Regions from separate parts of the Homo sapiens genome. Here region 1 is linked to region 2. A link means that fine-mapping ties the variant in region 2 to the expression of a gene that starts in the linked region. Tissue or cell type: T cells. Region 2 holds a variant in brackets; the other region holds the start of a gene. All regions are shown on one strand. Distances are between the middles of the regions.

What was found. PIP is the estimated chance that this variant, and not a neighbour inherited with it, causes the effect.
Region 1: ELMO1 starts here. The variant in region 2 is fine-mapped to the expression of ELMO1 in T cells (TOPMed, PIP above 0.99). The same link has a PIP of 0.9 or more in blood mononuclear cells and whole blood.

The regions. Positions count from the first base shown.
Region 1 is chr7:37,444,721-37,452,868 of GRCh38, reverse strand. It overlaps ELMO1 (engulfment and cell motility 1), which reads left to right and starts at 4,005. Exons shown (of 22, transcript NM_014800.11): 1 at 4,005-4,194. RefSeq lists silencers at 4,256-4,305, 4,316-4,365.
Region 2 is chr7:37,337,762-37,345,967 of GRCh38, reverse strand. ELMO1 (engulfment and cell motility 1) reads left to right here. Exons shown (of 22, transcript NM_014800.11): 2 at 3,205-3,355. The coding sequence starts at 3,278. Among named protein-coding and RNA genes, the nearest start is that of ELMO1, 110 kb to the left of the region's middle. RefSeq lists enhancers at 2,611-2,850, 3,091-3,210. The variant A/C (reference allele first, on the strand shown) is at 3,107.

The DNA.
Region 1 (8,148 bases), 110 kb before region 2:
TTCCTGACTTACAGATGATGTTAGCATCCCTGTCTCCGCATAGTCCTGCAATCTTCTGTCCTTCTCCTAATATTATACTCCTCACTTGTTTTTATGGCCATTTAAAATCTGTCTTCTGAGCTAGAATGGGAGTGCCAAAAGGGGGCAAGCCATGTTTGTCTTGTTCGTGATTGTACTCTCCCTTCCTCCCTTTTAAACTCACATTTAAAGCATTCAGTGCACGTTGAATTAATGAACGATCAAGTGAAGGAATGCCCTCTCACAGCAGCCCTCCGTGTCATTCTGCTTGTTCCAGGGCTGACCCTAGTGGCTCTAAATTGCAGGTGTCTGCCTGCTGCCCAGATCTCATTATCCCTGGTGTAGCGGCTTCCTGGAGCTGAGGCAACTCTCTATGTCCCCAGAGCTGTTTGAAGACTGGAGGCAAACCAGCATGAGCCTGATTCTAACACAAGAAAAGGGAATAGATTTGTCAAACTGTAGATCAAGGAATTTAGTGCTGATTTGGAGCAGAAATTTGGAGCAAATTACTGAATGTATTATTAAATGCACAGGATCCATTTAGAATCCAATGTTTAAAAATTAAATTAGAAATTAATATTTATGAGCACTTAGGAAGGAGTTGATCAATGTGAGTCATCATTGATTAAAAATACAACAGGCCATTATTGCAGTTTGGGGTTTCATGGTGACACTTTGCATGGTGACATTTTGATAGGATCTCAATCCTCCTAGTTTGGAATTTTGTACACACAAGGAAAGATAAAGACATGGGAAACACAAGATCAAAGTATTTAAATATGAGAAACTGCCCCAAATACCTCTCTGTCCATTAACAATTCAAAGCTTTCTTATAGAAACACGGTGGGGGAATGAAGCTTAGACTTGAGGCTTAAGTGATTTTGATTTTCCAGCCATCTGTCCCTACCCTGCTCTCTTTTCCTCTACTTATCCTGAAACTAAGACAGATGGTTCTACAGAGGAGATCCTGAATCAGTCTCCCTAACCACTTGAGATGTGGATGAGGCTGGCCTGTCTGCACAAAGGTCTAAGTTCTGCCCAGGTGGGCTTACCAGAAGTGCAAGTGAAGGGATGCACTTGGATTCTGTTCCTTGCTATAAAATGGCCGTCCTCACTGCTAAAGCATGACCTAATGATTGAATGGCCCAAGCTGTGACCAGGAGCTGAGAAGGGACAGTGGCAACAGATCTTTCTCACCATTATGGGTGGAGACTGACATGTGAAAAGAGGGAGTGGATGTTGCTCTTTTATTTTTTGAGTCTGTTAATATGACTTGTCCATTGAAGAACTATTGTAGATAATAATAGCTAACATTCAATGAGTGTTTCTATGTGTTAGGCCCTGTTAAGAATTTTTCATGAATTAACTCATTTAATCTTCACTTAACCGTATCTGGCAGACATGGTTTCAATCTCATGAGTTAAGAGTAATGCAGCCAGTAAATGGTAATGGTGGGATTTATACACAACAACCAGGTCCAAAGATGGAGCCCACATACATGACAACACCACATATTCCACTTTATTGCATCCATTGCTGACCACCAGCAGAGCTGAGGGAGAAGGCGGGTTCCTCTAAGACACTTGACAATACTTCTAAGATGTCTTTATGAATAGAAGAGAAAATTGAAGTTTGGCAATTGCACTGTTAAGCAGTTTATTAATAACCAGTGAACCAAAGAATGCTATTCTCCCAGCTTAGCAGAGGGAGCTCCTTAGTGGGATGTCATGTGGCATCTTAATATTTTAATGTAATCCATGGATATGGGGAGACACTGGATGCCTGAATTAAATCCTAAGGGACTTAGAGAAAGTGGATCAGGAACTTTGGTTCCAAAGATCAACTCCATGTTCCCGCACATGGCCTAACCGTAACACTGTAAAGAATTTCCAGTCTTCCCCTTGCACTCCTATCAACACTGAGATGTATTTGAGAAAAAAAAAAAAAGAGAGAGAGAGAGAAGATCTCAGGCTGTATTGTGTTTGCTAATGGTTAATTACGTAATTAATCTATAAGACTACTTTTTTTTCTTTTTTTCTTTTTTCTTTTTTTTTTTTAAAGGGCAGAGACAGATATTCTTCTGGGAGAAGATGGCTCAAATGAGAGAGACTTGAAGCCATGTCACATGAAGAAGAGTCAGAATAATTGAGGATGGTTAATCCTCAAAAGAGAGTGTTTAGGTAAAATTTGAGGGCTGACTTCAAAGATCTGAAAGACTACTTCATGGAGGAAAGATGTGAAGACCCGGGACCAAAGGTTACAGGGGAGTGGATTTGCATAATTGCTGTGCAAGGAGGGAACAATTATGACAGCTAATGTTTACTGAGTGCTCACCACGCATGCACTAAAGTTAAGGTCTTTATATGCCTTAGCTACAAGGTTGTAGATCAAATTCATACTTATCACTACAAGTGTCTCAGAGCATCGTTAGTAAAGGCTCCATTTACTGACTACTTATTAAATTACTTCATTTAATAGTTGGTGCTATTGACTTTTGTTATTATATCATTACTGTTTTATAGATGAGGAAATACAGAAGTTAAGTTGCTTTCCTGCAGTCACCCTGCTTTAGTTACTGGCTTATAACCATCTGGACCCAGGCACTCTTGATACTAATACTGCCTCCCAGAGTCATGCGTATAATAAGGAGTTAGATCAGAGCTGTTCATTAAAAGTATAAGGTGAGCCACTAATGAGAGCCTATGTGTAGCCTTACATTTTCTAGTAGCTACATCAGAAAATGTAAAAAGAAACTGGTGAAATTAATCTTATATATGCTTATATCTTAACCCAACACATGACGAATCCAACTGACTTACTACATCAGACTATTCTCATGTATTGCAATAATGTAATCAACATAAACATACTTAACAAGTTAGTTTACATTCATTTTAAAAATACTGAATTGTATGTCTGTTTTACACTTACAGAACATCTCAGGGATAGCCACATTTCAAGTGCTCAACAGCTGCCTGTGGCTCTTGAGGGGGAAGATCTTAAAAGGGAGCTTAGTTTTCCACCTTGATTCTGATGCCTCCCTGCCCCCGACTTATTTCCTTTGCCAATTAGAAGAAAATGCCGAACTGCCTTTGACTTTTCCGGTAGAGCCAATGTAGGTATTTCTGAACTGGGGGAGGACAGGTGGTTCGCCTGCAACCCTCTTCCCTCCTGCCAGCTAGGCTGGGAGTTAACGTTTTTGATTTCTGCTTTGAAAATGATTTAAGTAGGTTGCATGAATTAAGTAATTTATTCTAAATATCAAATTATGGGTGGAACGTCTTGCCTTATGCAAAGTTATGCAAAATTAGGAAGTCCCTGGCTTAATTGGTTAGAAATACATCTTGTAGTTTCAATTGCAGGGTTAGTAAATACATAGATGTCGACGGAGAGGGAGGAAACTTTTTTTTTTTTTTTTTGCCACTCTGTCCAAGGGTAGAGGCACAGCGTCAAAACAAACACGTCTTAAAGTAGCGTTCAAACAGCCCACCGAAGTTTCCCCTTAATATCCGGAACCGGTTGCCAAAAATTAAAAAAGGATGTGAAAAGATGCTACTCGCTTTTGGCCTCCCGGAGATGGCGCTATGAGGGTGACGGAGTTAATTAGTGCCTCCAAACGCCGTGTGTGAGCTCATCGAAGTCATGCTCTGCACACATATTATTTATAGCAGATCTGAGGCATGCATGGTGTTTGACATTTCTGTCTTTTAAGTAGGGGGACTTCAAAAAGTCGTGGGCATCCCCCTAGGCAAAGTGCAGTGGGCAGGGACCAGGCAGGGTGCGGGCGCAAGGCGAACGCGCAGACCACGAGTGTCCTGGCGCAGGTGCCGGGGGCGGCGGCTGCAACTCCGCAGCGTCCGCTCGGGAGGAGAGTTCGCGGCTGATCTCCGGATGCCTTGCAGATGCAAAATGTGTCTCTGGCCAGCAGGAGGAAGGAAGAGGAAGTGAGAGCAGCGGCAGCCGGCGGTGCAGCAGCCGGCCGACCCAGAGTGTAAGTGCGTGTGCTGGGGCGAGCGGGAGCGGGCGAGGATGGGCACAGGATAGAGGCAGAGCCACCCACGCCGCCGCGGCCCCACGCTGGGCGACAGAGCCTCCAGTTCCCCTTCAATGGTGGCGGGTCGCCGGAGCTCTGATCGCCGGGAACCCTTGCCGCTGCTGTCCTGCGACCCCAAGCAGGTTCGTAAAGTTTCCTGGGCTGGCGCCGCGCCCCGACTCGCTGACCTCGGCGCGGCAGGGGAGGGGGCCGGGACTGGGGCCGGGAGGAGGCGTCCTGCTCCGGGGGACTCCGGGCGCCGCGGAGACACTTTTGTTTCCTCCCTGGGGGCGCCGCGGCTCGGGCGGGGGTGGCCGCCGCGCTCGGCAGGGTGAGGGCTGCGGGCGCGTCGGGGCGCTCTGCAGTTGGGGAAGTCTGAGCTCCGGGGATGGCGGGAGTGGGAGTGGGAGCGGAGGGAGGGGGCGCTGGAGGTGCGGCGCCCGCGGATGAAGCGCAGGGCCCGGGGCCCGGGAGCCCGCCGAGACATTTCGACCAGGGTCTGCGGGAGGGGGGGCGCGGGAGGGTTGCGACGCTGGCGCGGGGTTACTGGGGACGGGGGATGTGGGGCTGGGATCTTGGAGTCAAGATTCCTATAGAGCTAGAGAAGCGGCTGCGGCTCAGACTCGGCGTCTTCTCCTGCACTCGGGGATGGGAGGGAATCCCCCGGCGAGCGCGCTCGTGGGAGGGGGCGGTGATGGGCCAGAGGAATGGGGGCCAGGAGGGCCGGAGAGGGCGGTCTGGGCAGCCGGGAGCCCCTGAGGTTCTGGTTAGTAAATACTCTCCTCCCGGGGACACACCGGGGTCTCCGCCGAGACCGAGAGAGGCGGCGGGGAGCTTTGTGGAGCTTCGTGGAAATCTCGGCTTCGGAGAGGGGACGCACCGGGCGCGCCTTCAGAGAAGGGGGCGGCGGCATGCCAGGGGGCCCGGGAATCGGAGCGGAGAGTGGCGACTGCGATCGCCGGAGTCGCTTTGAGGAAGAGGAAATACAGAACTCAGCTGTCCCGGGGGTGCGCGCGTGTGTTTGGGGTTGGGAAGTCGGTGCTGTGCCGCGAGCGCGCGCGAGGCGGCGTGTGTGTGTGTGTGTGTGTGTGTGTGTGTGTGTGGTGTGTGCGCGCGCGCGTATGTATGTGTGTGTGGTGTGTCGTCGGTGTGTGTGTGAGTGTGTGTGTGTGGGGGGGGTGTTGTGGGTGTGTGTGTGAGTCGGTGTGTGTGTGTGTGACCGCACAGCCAGGAACTCCCCGCCCAGTGACCCTCTCCCGCCTAGGGGGCCATTTGAAGTTGGAGGCGGGTCGGGACCTGCCTTGACCTAAAGGACCAGCCTCAGGCTTGGTCCCAGGTAGTGACCCAGCTCTGAGAGTCCCTGGACGGCTCCCGAGACTCAGTGAATATATTTGGGATGCCCCCCGCGCTGGATCATGGGCTTCCCAACACCGCTGGCCTTGAATGATTCGGGCCTAATTCGTTATGGTTAAGATTTCAGATAATCTAAGACGGGTTGAGGCCTCCAGAAGCGGAGGCTTCCTGTTGGGCGCTGCCAGTGACTTGGGGATGAAGCTATGGAAGAATATCTGAGTGTTTCTCTTTTGCTTCTATAAAAGTAATTAATGACCTGTATTTACACACCAAAACCCTGCGAGCAACTTTGGGACATAGAGGGATATAATCCTTCTCAGAATCACTTTGAGATTGCAAAAACCGGCAGCAGCTATTATTGGGGTCTCCTCTGGCCAGGGTTCTCATATTATCTCACCTCCATGCCTACTTTCCAAGGTTGTTTCAAGCATTAATGTCCCATAATTTACAGATCTGGGGGAAAATAATGGTAAGTTAGGAGGCCAGATCCCCTGCAGAAACATCACATATTTTTAATTTTTCTTATAGCTGACCTTTTGAAGCTTTACTCTTTATTATTGTACATTTCCTATCTCTGGAAGGCTGTGGTTAAATGTGCATGCTGCCTTGTTTCTACTCTGTTTTGTTTGTTTTTATTAGGTTGGTAAATTTTGAGAAAATGACCTGGACTGCTGGGACTCTTGGGGAGGGGTTGTGTCAGGAGGGTACTGAACTGGAGAACAAGAAGTATGGTAGGTATCAGGGAGGGGCAGGCTCGGAGGCAGACCCGGATGGGAGTCTGGGGAAACTCAGGGCCTGGAGCAGTCATTGGGCAAGAAGATGGGCAGTTCTAGTGATGGTCATGCTTACTGTCCTTGGTAACTGCAGGCACCCTCACCGTCTTACATTCTTCTTTTTCACTGAGTTCTCTCCCTAGGGCCTTTGCCCATGATATTACAGGAGGAGCTTTTCTCCCACATGTCCAGATGACTCACTTCCCCTGCTTCTTTCAGGTCTCTGTCCAGTTGTCAGCTTATAGGGGGCCTTCCCTGGCTACCCCATATAAAATAGCAGCCAGACACTCCCTGGGCCTCTTATGTTACTCAGTTTTTTGTCTTAGTACCTTTTACTCCCTGGCATTATACAGTCATTGGTGTATTTTGAGTATTGTCTCTCTCCCTGTTAGAGCAGAAGTTCCATGAGGGTAGTGACTACCTTGTCTTGTTTACAGCTCCAGAACCTGGATGGATTCTTAGCATGATGTCGGTGCTCAATAAGTGTTTGTTGACTGACTAAATGAGAGGTGGCTATACTGGGAGAGATCCACCAGGGAAATATACCAGGAAAATGTTGCAGCATTAGTGCAAGTGAGAAGCCCAGGTAATGGGCTTTTGCTTTTTTCGCTGTCCTTTCCCCCATGCCAGGCCACTCTTCTTTTAGACTCTGTTCTGCCTTGAGTAGACTCCTCCCTTTTTCTGCCTGAAGAAAGGAACAGAGAGGTGATTCCTTGGGAGATTAGATAACCAGTACACTTAATGACACATAACCATTCCAGATCTGGTGTTTCATCACTCTCCTTGGAGAAGGTCTTTTAAAGAAGTCTGTGTTGCTTTAGCCTAGGAGGAAGGGCATGATTGTAAGGGGATTGAAGTCAGAGGCATCTACTGTGTCCCATTCTGCTCTCCTACAATATGGAAGTGAAGACAGGAGGCTGTAAGGGAGGCTGTGTGGCAGATGCAGGGGAGATGAGAAATGCCTAGGAGAAGAAAAATAAAAGTGAGAAAACATTAAGGTGTTCTGCAGGTGCAGCTAAGTCTTGAACATTTACTAAATTACTATATTGAAAAGAAGCTAACTCTTGAGTGTTTCAAAGTAATTTAACCCCTTTGGGTGTTTGGTGTGAGTGGGTGGGGCGGGTGGGGAAAGGGCTTTGAAGCCTTTGCTGAAGGATGTGGCTGGGGGTGAGGCAAGGAGCTCACCTGATCACACACTGTGCTTACTTCATCAGGTTGCCTAATGCTCAAGGGTTAAAGGTGATCATTCCTATGGAGGTAACATTTCCCTTCCAGATCTAAGACAGTGGATACAATTAAGGTTTGTAACTCAAGCTTGTAACCACTTTTTGGTGCCTGAAACCATCCAAGTAGATAGTTTGGTTTATAAGACATTCTGTTGAATCTGGAAAACGTGGTGGATTAAGAAACCCTCTCTGCATCACAAAGCCTGGAGTGTTTGCTACTAATTGTGCAACTTTAGTTCTGGTTCCTTCTAGTCAACCAGAGAAGTGCTTTTTAAGCTTACGGCTGTAACCCATGAGCGGATCATGATATCACTTTAGTAGGCCAAGACCAGCAGTTTAAAATGTGAAAGAGAAGAGTGGTGTGGAAAACAGCATTTCATAAAACAGACACCCAGTCTTAATGTCAAAGTATTGCTCAGTGTAGGTAACGATTTTAAAAAGCCTGTTTCAATAATTCTGGGGAAAACTACATTTTTAACCAACTTGCCAGGGATTCTGATGACGACGTTCTAGAGGGCTACAAGAAATACTTAGCTATCTCCTTTTAACAAAATACTGTTGGTTTAACCCCCTGCAGGAGATGCTATTTCCAAATGTTGAACCAGATGCAGTTCTGTCGGCTATTGACTTAACTTTTCAAAATGCTACTATTGGCCGGGCGCGGTGGCTCACGCCTCTAATCCCAGCACTTTGGGAGTCCGAGGCGGGTGGATTGCGAGGTCAGGAGATCCAGACCATCCTGGCT
Region 2 (8,206 bases):
GCCCAGGCTGGAGTGCAGTGGCATGATCTCGGCTCACTGCAAGCTCTGCCTCCTGGGTTCACGCCATTTTCCTGTCTCAGCCTCCCGAGTAGCTGGGACTACAGGCACCCACCACCACGCCCGGCTAATTTTTTGTATTTTTAGTAGAGATGGGGTTTCACGGCGTTAGCCAGGATGGTCTCGATCTCCTGACCTTGTGATCTGCCTGCCTCGGCCTCCCAAAGTGCTGGGATTACAGGTGTGAGCCACCACACCCGGCTTGAGACAGAGTCTCGCTCTGTTGCCCACGCTGGTGTGCAGTGGTGCGATCTTGGTCCCCTGCAACCTCCACCTCCCGGGTTCAAATGATTCTCTTGTCACAGCCTCCCGAGTAGCTGCGATTACAAGCACCACCACGCCAGGCTAATTTTTGTATTTTTTAGTAGAGATGAGGTTTCACCATGTTGGCCAGGCTGGTCTTGAACTCCTGGCCTCAAGTGATCCACCCGCCTCAGTCTCAAAGTGTTGGGATTACAGGCGTGAGCCACCGCACCTGGCCTCAGATGTCTTTACTCAGGTGCTGCCTTCTCGGTGAACCTTTCTCTGAGTTTCCTGTTTAAAATTGTATTCCTGCCCCTCCCACACTGGTAGAGGCACAGGCTTCAGTTTCCTTCGCTGCTTGATTTTTCTTCATATCCTTTGTTGCTATATCCCAGATTTGCTGCTGTATATCCTCAGCATGGGGAATAGACCTGGCACTGAGCAGAGGCTCAATAATTATTTGTTGAATGAGTGACTAAACCACTGCTTTGTAGATTTGCTCTTGCTAGTTACCACTGATTAGCTTCTCAGCAGGCTTCCCTAATCATCTTTGGCCAAAGGAGTAGCGGTTTTGTTTTGGTTCATTTCCTTTACTTGTCAGCTGCGCTGAAGTTAGTTATTTATATAACTGCTGGTGTTGTTGAGGCTTCCATTATTAACTCTGCTATCTCTATTGTCTCAGTAATGTCCAGCTACTGCTGAGATCTGGGATAGTAACTCACAAGGCCTACTCTGGTCTGGTAAAGGACCAAATGCACATGTTTAAGATCTTCGTTACAGATATCAATTTCTCAAAAAAGACAAGAGAACCCAATAGAAAAGGGACAAATGTTTGGACTGTTCACAAAAAGGGAGCGTGTGTCTTTTCCTCTTTATGTTCAGCCTCACTCACAATAAGAGAAATATAATTTTAAAATACATTAAGATTTTATTTTTCAACCTGTCAGGTTTGCAAAAATTCATTCTGTTGGTGAGGCTGGGTGTAAATAGACAACCTCATACAAGTCCAATGGAGAGAAATTTGGAAATGGCTATCAATATTAACTGCACCTATGTTTTGACCCAGCAGTTTCAGTTCTGTGAATCTATTGTAAGGATGTACTTGCATATGTGCAAAATCAGTTATATATAAGTTTATGGATCACAGTTTGGTTTATGATAGCTAAACTTAAGAAATCACCCAAATGGCCCACAGCAGGGGACTGGTTCATCAAATAGGACACATCCACACAATGAACTACTATGTAGCTGTGAAAAGAATCAAGATGCTCTCTTTGTACTAACATAGAAGGATTTAGAAAATATACTAAAAGAAACAAAAAGAATGCTCCCTTTTGGCCAGTCACGGTGGCTCACGCCTGCAATCCCAGCACTTCAGGAGGCCGGGGAGGGCAGATCACCTGAGGTCAGGAGTTCAAGACCAGCCTGGCCAACATGGCGAAACCCTGTCTCTACTAAAAATACAAAAGTTAGCCGGATGTGGTGGTGTGCGTCTGTAATCCCAGCTACTCGGGAAGCTGAGACGGGAGAATCGCTTGAACCCGGGAGGTGGAGGTTGCCTTGAGCTGAGATCATGCCCCTGCACTCCAGCCTGGGCAACAGAGGGAGACTCTGTCTCAAAAAAAAAAAAAAAATGCTGCCTTTTATATAAAGAAAGTGGCAAATGTAATAATGTATTTTTGTATTTGCCTTCTATACTTGAAGAAAGTTTGGAGGGATACCTAATGACTTTGGATAACTGGAAGTATAAGAAGTGAACGCAGATATTGGGCAGGTGGGTGACACTGGGAGAAGAGACTCTACACTGTCCGTCTTTGTACACACAAACACACATACACACACAAGTTTGTATCACATGATTGTTAACAAAAAATTAATTTTAAAAAGAAATGGGGCTGGGCCAGGTGGCTCACGCCTGTAATCGCAGCACTTTGGGAGGCTGAGGTGGGCAGATTACCCAGAGTTCAAGACCAGCCTGGCCAACATGGCGAAACCTTGTCTCTACTAAACATATAAAAATTAGCCAGGCGTGGTGGTGGGCCCCTGTTATCCTGGCTACTTGGGAGGCTGAGGCAGGAGAATTGCTTGGACTCAAGAGGTGGAGGTTGCAGTGAGCCAAAATTGCGCCACTGGGCAACAGAACCAGGCTCTGCCTCAAAAAAAAAAAAAAAAAAAAAAAAGAAATGGGCTAGCCTGGGAAGAGGCAGCAGAGGATAATGGTTACCTCCTTTGTGTAAGAAGCACGATTCATTCAAGTGAGAATTCAAAGTCTGTTCTGAATGCCATTCAGTCCACATCTGTACATTTTCTGCCCCACCCCCACCCCCCACCGAAGGTGCATTGTGTGAACCGACCTTGGGGAGGGAGTATGGGTGTGCATGTGTGTGAGCTCTCAGGGTGTTTCTCCTTCTTCATGATATCCTGGTTGCTATAGTGTGGAGATCTGTTTGTGACACACAGAAAACACTTTAAAGAAACACTGCTTCCTGACCATGACTTCCTGGGCAATCTGTCCTTCCTCAGACTGTTGAGTGCCAGACGTTTATATGCATGTCTGGACAGAGAGTGAGCCTGGCTCATTCAGACCCTGGGCACCATTCAGAGCAGAACTCAGTGGTAAGGAACAGCTTTCTTTCCACTGAAGATTCGCGCAAGCCGTGCCCCACAGGGCAGCGTCTCCTGGCGGCTTTGACTCAAGGGCGTTGGCACGGGCACCCCCATCTTTCTTCTTTCCTCAGGAGCCCATTGTACCGTTGGCTGTGCCCCTGCACCTTCAGCACCCAGGCACCAAGGGGAGCCGTTTTTC[A/C]TACCAAACCACCAGTGAAAACAGGAAGTGATGAAGCAAAATTCACCCTGCATCTGCACTGAGTGACTTCTCTTTCTTTTTCTGTCATTCCTCATTAGGTATAGACACGTGTGGCCGTTTACGCTGTAGGATCCTCATTCCCACTGGCTTTGAACATTTTGGGGACTTACAATGCCGCCACCCGCGGACATCGTCAAGGTGGCCATAGAATGGCCGGGCGCCTACCCCAAACTCATGGAAATTGATCAGGTTAGTAACGTGACAGCATTGGGTGTCTATTTTCAGTTTCCTTTCTATACTGGAATTTTCATAGACTTTGGATAGCTCACTCTTCTCCCTTTCTCTCTCTAGCTGTGTTGAAAAATCTGTGCAATAATAGTTGCAATGTGCTTGATTTCTGTAGCACATACAGTGATGGATGGGGTTTTTATACTCTTCCAGCATCCACTTGGATTGTGTCAATACAGGATTTGTGTCTGAAGCTAGGAAGGAGGTGGGAGGGACAAGTGGATCGGGCCCTGGGCAGTTGACACAGTGGAGGCTGCCCCATCCCTGCCTTGCCATGACACATGGATATGTGCAGATTGTTGGAACACAGGCAAGACAAAACTTAATTTTTAAAATCCCTTTTTTTTCATTTTTTGCAGAAGCAGCCAAATGCATTGGTACTTTGTTATATTAATAGCTTTGTAATGAAATTAGTATAGAGGGGTTCAGTCTTGGATTTCAGCCAATTGTAATTTTTATTTTTAGTGTAAAATTCACAATGTGTCTAGCATATTGTCTGCCATGTAGTAAATACTCAACAAATGTTTATTGAATTAAAAAATATCAAGAAGACTTATAAAAGTGGCTTGACCCATAAAGGCATCCTTTAACTTGAATCTTGAGAATTGTATGGTGTGATTCTCATGCACTATTTGATTATAGGTTATCTCAGAATGGTTACTTTTGTCCTCACTTTACTGTAGTCACTCTAGAGCAAATGATTTAAGGAATAAAAGGTTGAGACCTATTATATACTTACAGGTTTCATAATGTATATAGTATAGGGTTCTAGATGGCTTTCTACATTTTCAAAATTACAATAACCATGGCAACTCCAATCTTTATGTTCTCCATACTATTTTACAATTATGATTTACAATTTTTTTTCCTGGTCAGATTTTATTATCTGGTGGCAGATCAATGCGAGAGTTATATGGAATTGTGCGAATCCAAAGGAATCATTAAAATGAATTATACGGGTCAGCTCAGAATTAATTGAACTTAAACTCAAATGTAAGAAAGGGTAAATTTTTGGGATTTTTGTCAAAAAAGCTGTTATCAGACCACACATCATTGTCATTTTAACTGCTCTCTGAGGTAGTTTTCTACTGACTCAAGAAGGAACCTATACAAACAGAGAAAAGTAGAGATGCCTAATAGTTTCGGATATATTTGAGTCAGGCAACAGATGCTTATCTGCTTTCATATGTGGTTTGAGATGCTAGTTAAAATTTACCTTAAGAAAATGTTTGGAGATACTCGGTGCAGACTAAATGTAGTTTGGATTAGGTTTGGCCACAGCCTAAGAGACCAGTGGCTTCAGTGAGATGGAAGTTGGTCTCACACACGTGTAGAGAGGTCCTGAATGCCCCGCAGTGGCATGCACTGGGGCCCTCTGTCTTGTTGCATTGCCCTTCTCAATCTGTGGAGCTTTGGACCACATGCTTGGGCATCACCCGAAAGCACATTAGAAATGCAGAATCTCTGGTCTTATTCCAGACCTCCTGACCCAAGTCTGCATTTTAACAAGATCTCCAGGGTATCCCTGTGTGTAGTTCAATCTGAGACGTGCTGAGCTGGATACCTGGTGCCCAAGCCCGAGTACTAATCAGAATTACCCAGGCACTTATTCGAAATAACTATTTTCAGTGGTCCCATCCCAAGAGACTCTAATTTAGTGGTTCTGGTAAACTATTTAATTTTGATTCTGCCATGGTCAGTGCAGTTTGGGAACCTCTGCTTTAAGACAGCAGCTCTTGATAGACAGTCCTCCTCCTTACCTGTGAGGTTAGTGTAGTGTTCTCTGCCTTTGGAGATGGCCTTTGCTATGTGTGTGTTTTAATATATATATTTTTAAATTATCTGCTTATTTTGGAATAATTTTAGATTTACAGAAAATTACAAAGATTGTATATGCTTACATTTATACCCTATTTCCAGTTTCCCCTTATGTTAATATCTTAATCTTGGTACATTAGTCAAAACTAAGAAATTGACATTGGTACATCACATTAACATAACTACCAACTTTATTTGGATTTCACCGGATTTTCCACTAATGTCCTTATTCTGTTCGAGGATCCAATCCAGGGATACGAATTGTCACGTTTCCTCAGTCTCCTTCCGTTTTGGACAATTTCTCAGTCTTTCCTTGTTTTTCATGGCCTGATAGCTTTGACAAGTAATTTTATGTTGATACAATTTTAAACACACAAAAATTGCCAGGATAGTACAAAGAACTCTGTACCTACTTTTTCTGAACCATTTGATGGAGCCCTGGAAGCACCATCCCCCTTCACCCCTGAACACTCAGTGTGTATGTCCCTAAGATTGTAGCCATTCTCTTACATAATAATCACAGTACATTTATAAAACCAGAAATAAATTGAATACTGGTATAATGCTATCGTCAAATTCACAGTTCGTAATCCATATTCAAATTCCATCAGTTGTCCCAATAAGATCCTCTATAGCTATTTTCTCTCTGGTGTAATATCCTGTCCAGGATCATGTACTATGTTTATTGTCAGGTCTCTTTGATCTCCATTGATCTTTAGAAATTTCTCAGTCTTTATCTTTTGTGACCTTGACATTTTTGTAGAGTACAGGACAGCTATTTTAGGAAAAGTCTTCAGTTTGGGGTTCTCTCACATATCCTGCTGATCAGATTCGAGTTTTGTATTTTTGGCAGAAATGTAGAGAAATGATGTGTCCTTTTTGGCTCATCATATCAAGAGGTACATGGTGTTGCATTGCCTAATTCTTGATAATTATTCTGGTTTTACAGATGACAAGTGTAAACAGTTGGTTAAATTATAGGCCTCCTATTAATCACATATGGAAACCTAGACGGGCAATTAGGAACCCAGTTCCTAATTGCCCTGCAGTTGCTGGAATTACAATGAGACTTATGGAAGTGTTGCTGTCAGATGTTGTTTCTTGATTGAATCAGAAGTTGGCACAAGAATTAGAAGTATGTTTTCACATGCAATGAAGAGTAGAAGAAATGATTATTACTTGGGTTTTCTCCTAATCTTCTACCTTGTTCAGTAAAGATCACATAACCTGCCTCTCTCCCATAGCATGTTAGCTTCATTTAGAAAGCTCTTTGCTTCTTTTTAGCCTGGATAGCTGCTATTTCACTAAAAGCCGTTTCCAAAAGTTGGGTTAAGCACTGCTGCTCTATTGTCTCCCAAAATTTTGGGTGCCCCTCCACTTATCACATTGTATTGTCCTTGTCTATCAACTGAACCCAGTGGTCCTCAACCTTGACTGTGTACAAGAAGCATCCAGGGAGCTTGTACAAAATGCATATACCAGCTTGTGCAAAATGCAGCCCCAGCTGCAGAGATTGTGATTCTGCTGGCCAGGGGCAGGGCTTTTCATCTGCATCTGTGATAAGCACCAGATGAATCTAATCCAAGGGCTTCCACAGTTTGAGAAGCAGTCATTAGACTGGGAACTGCCTGTCTTTGAGTGTTGTTTCTCCTTGCCTGGTGAACAGTCCTTAAAATGAAAAGATATTTCATGAATGAATAACTGGGAGGCGGTGCTTCCTGAGTAGTGATTATCTTATCAGGTGCTCAATTCTGCTCAGCCACCCTCCATCAGTGCCTGGAGTTTTCAGAGGGACGTCTGCCCATGATGGACTTGTTTATCTTCTTTCTAAATATTTAGGAGAAAATTCTGTGTTTCCACTCAGCAGGAAAAATCCCCAGGAGCTTCTTAGACATGGACTTTGCTGTATCACAGGAAGGTCTCAAAAGAATTATCAACTCACTGGTTCCTGACTCCTGCTCTCGCCTTCACAATGTATTGTTGAGTTTCAAGCCCGGGGAGCCGCTTGAGGATGAGGATGCTTGTTGTCTGGATATATCAAGGCTCCTGCATGCACTGTTCTTGTTAACCTATTATGTCCTGAATAATGTATTTGTTTCTCGGTCAAGAGTCTGGAATCCCAAACACTTCAATAAGCAGCATCTAGTAAGAGGCAGTGGGCTCCAAGGACATTTAAACCTGGATGTGAGCACTTGTTTTAGTTCCTTCAGCTGCTATAACAAAGTACCTTAAACTGGGAAATTTATGAACAACAGAAATTTATTGTTCACAGTTCTGGAGGCTGGGAAGTCCAAGATCAAGGCACCAGTGGATGTGGTGTGTGATGAGGGCTTGTTCCTCATAAATGGTGCCTTGTATGTTTCCCCACAGGCAAAAGGGGCAAACAGGCTCTGTCAAGCATGTTTTTATACCACCACCATGGGGGCCAGGTTTCAAACAGATGAATTTTGGGGAGACACAAACATTCAGACCATAGCAGTCCTGGAGCCCTGCTTTCTGTGAAAGGCTCAGTTAGCCTTGAGCCTCAGTTTCTTTGGGATAATAATTTGCTACTTTGATGGTCCTTGTGAAGATTAAAGAAATCATGTGAAAAGAGTGTAGCATGTTGCATAGCTTAGAGTGATTCCTCAATAAAAGCAGCCATTATTAGCTAGATTAGAAAATTAGGTACTCTGGTTTTCCTTTTCACCTGCACTTCCATTGTGAACATTTGCCCTCTGTTCTCATTCTTTCTCTGCCTAACTTTTTCAATGTTTAGGAAGGAGAAAAAATTAAAAGACAAGTGGGAGGCATCCTCTGGTAATAAAGAGGTGTCCTAATTGGACACATAGCCAATTTGTGCTATGGAATATTCACTGGCTCCCTAGTACTCTGTGATTTTTTTTTTCCATCTTGGCCACTCACCATTTCTGAGCAGCAGCTTTTCTGTTCCCTGCATAAACTCTTCAAGCCTCCAGTATTTCTTGTCTCTGCCCTGCCCCCTCAGGCCTTGCT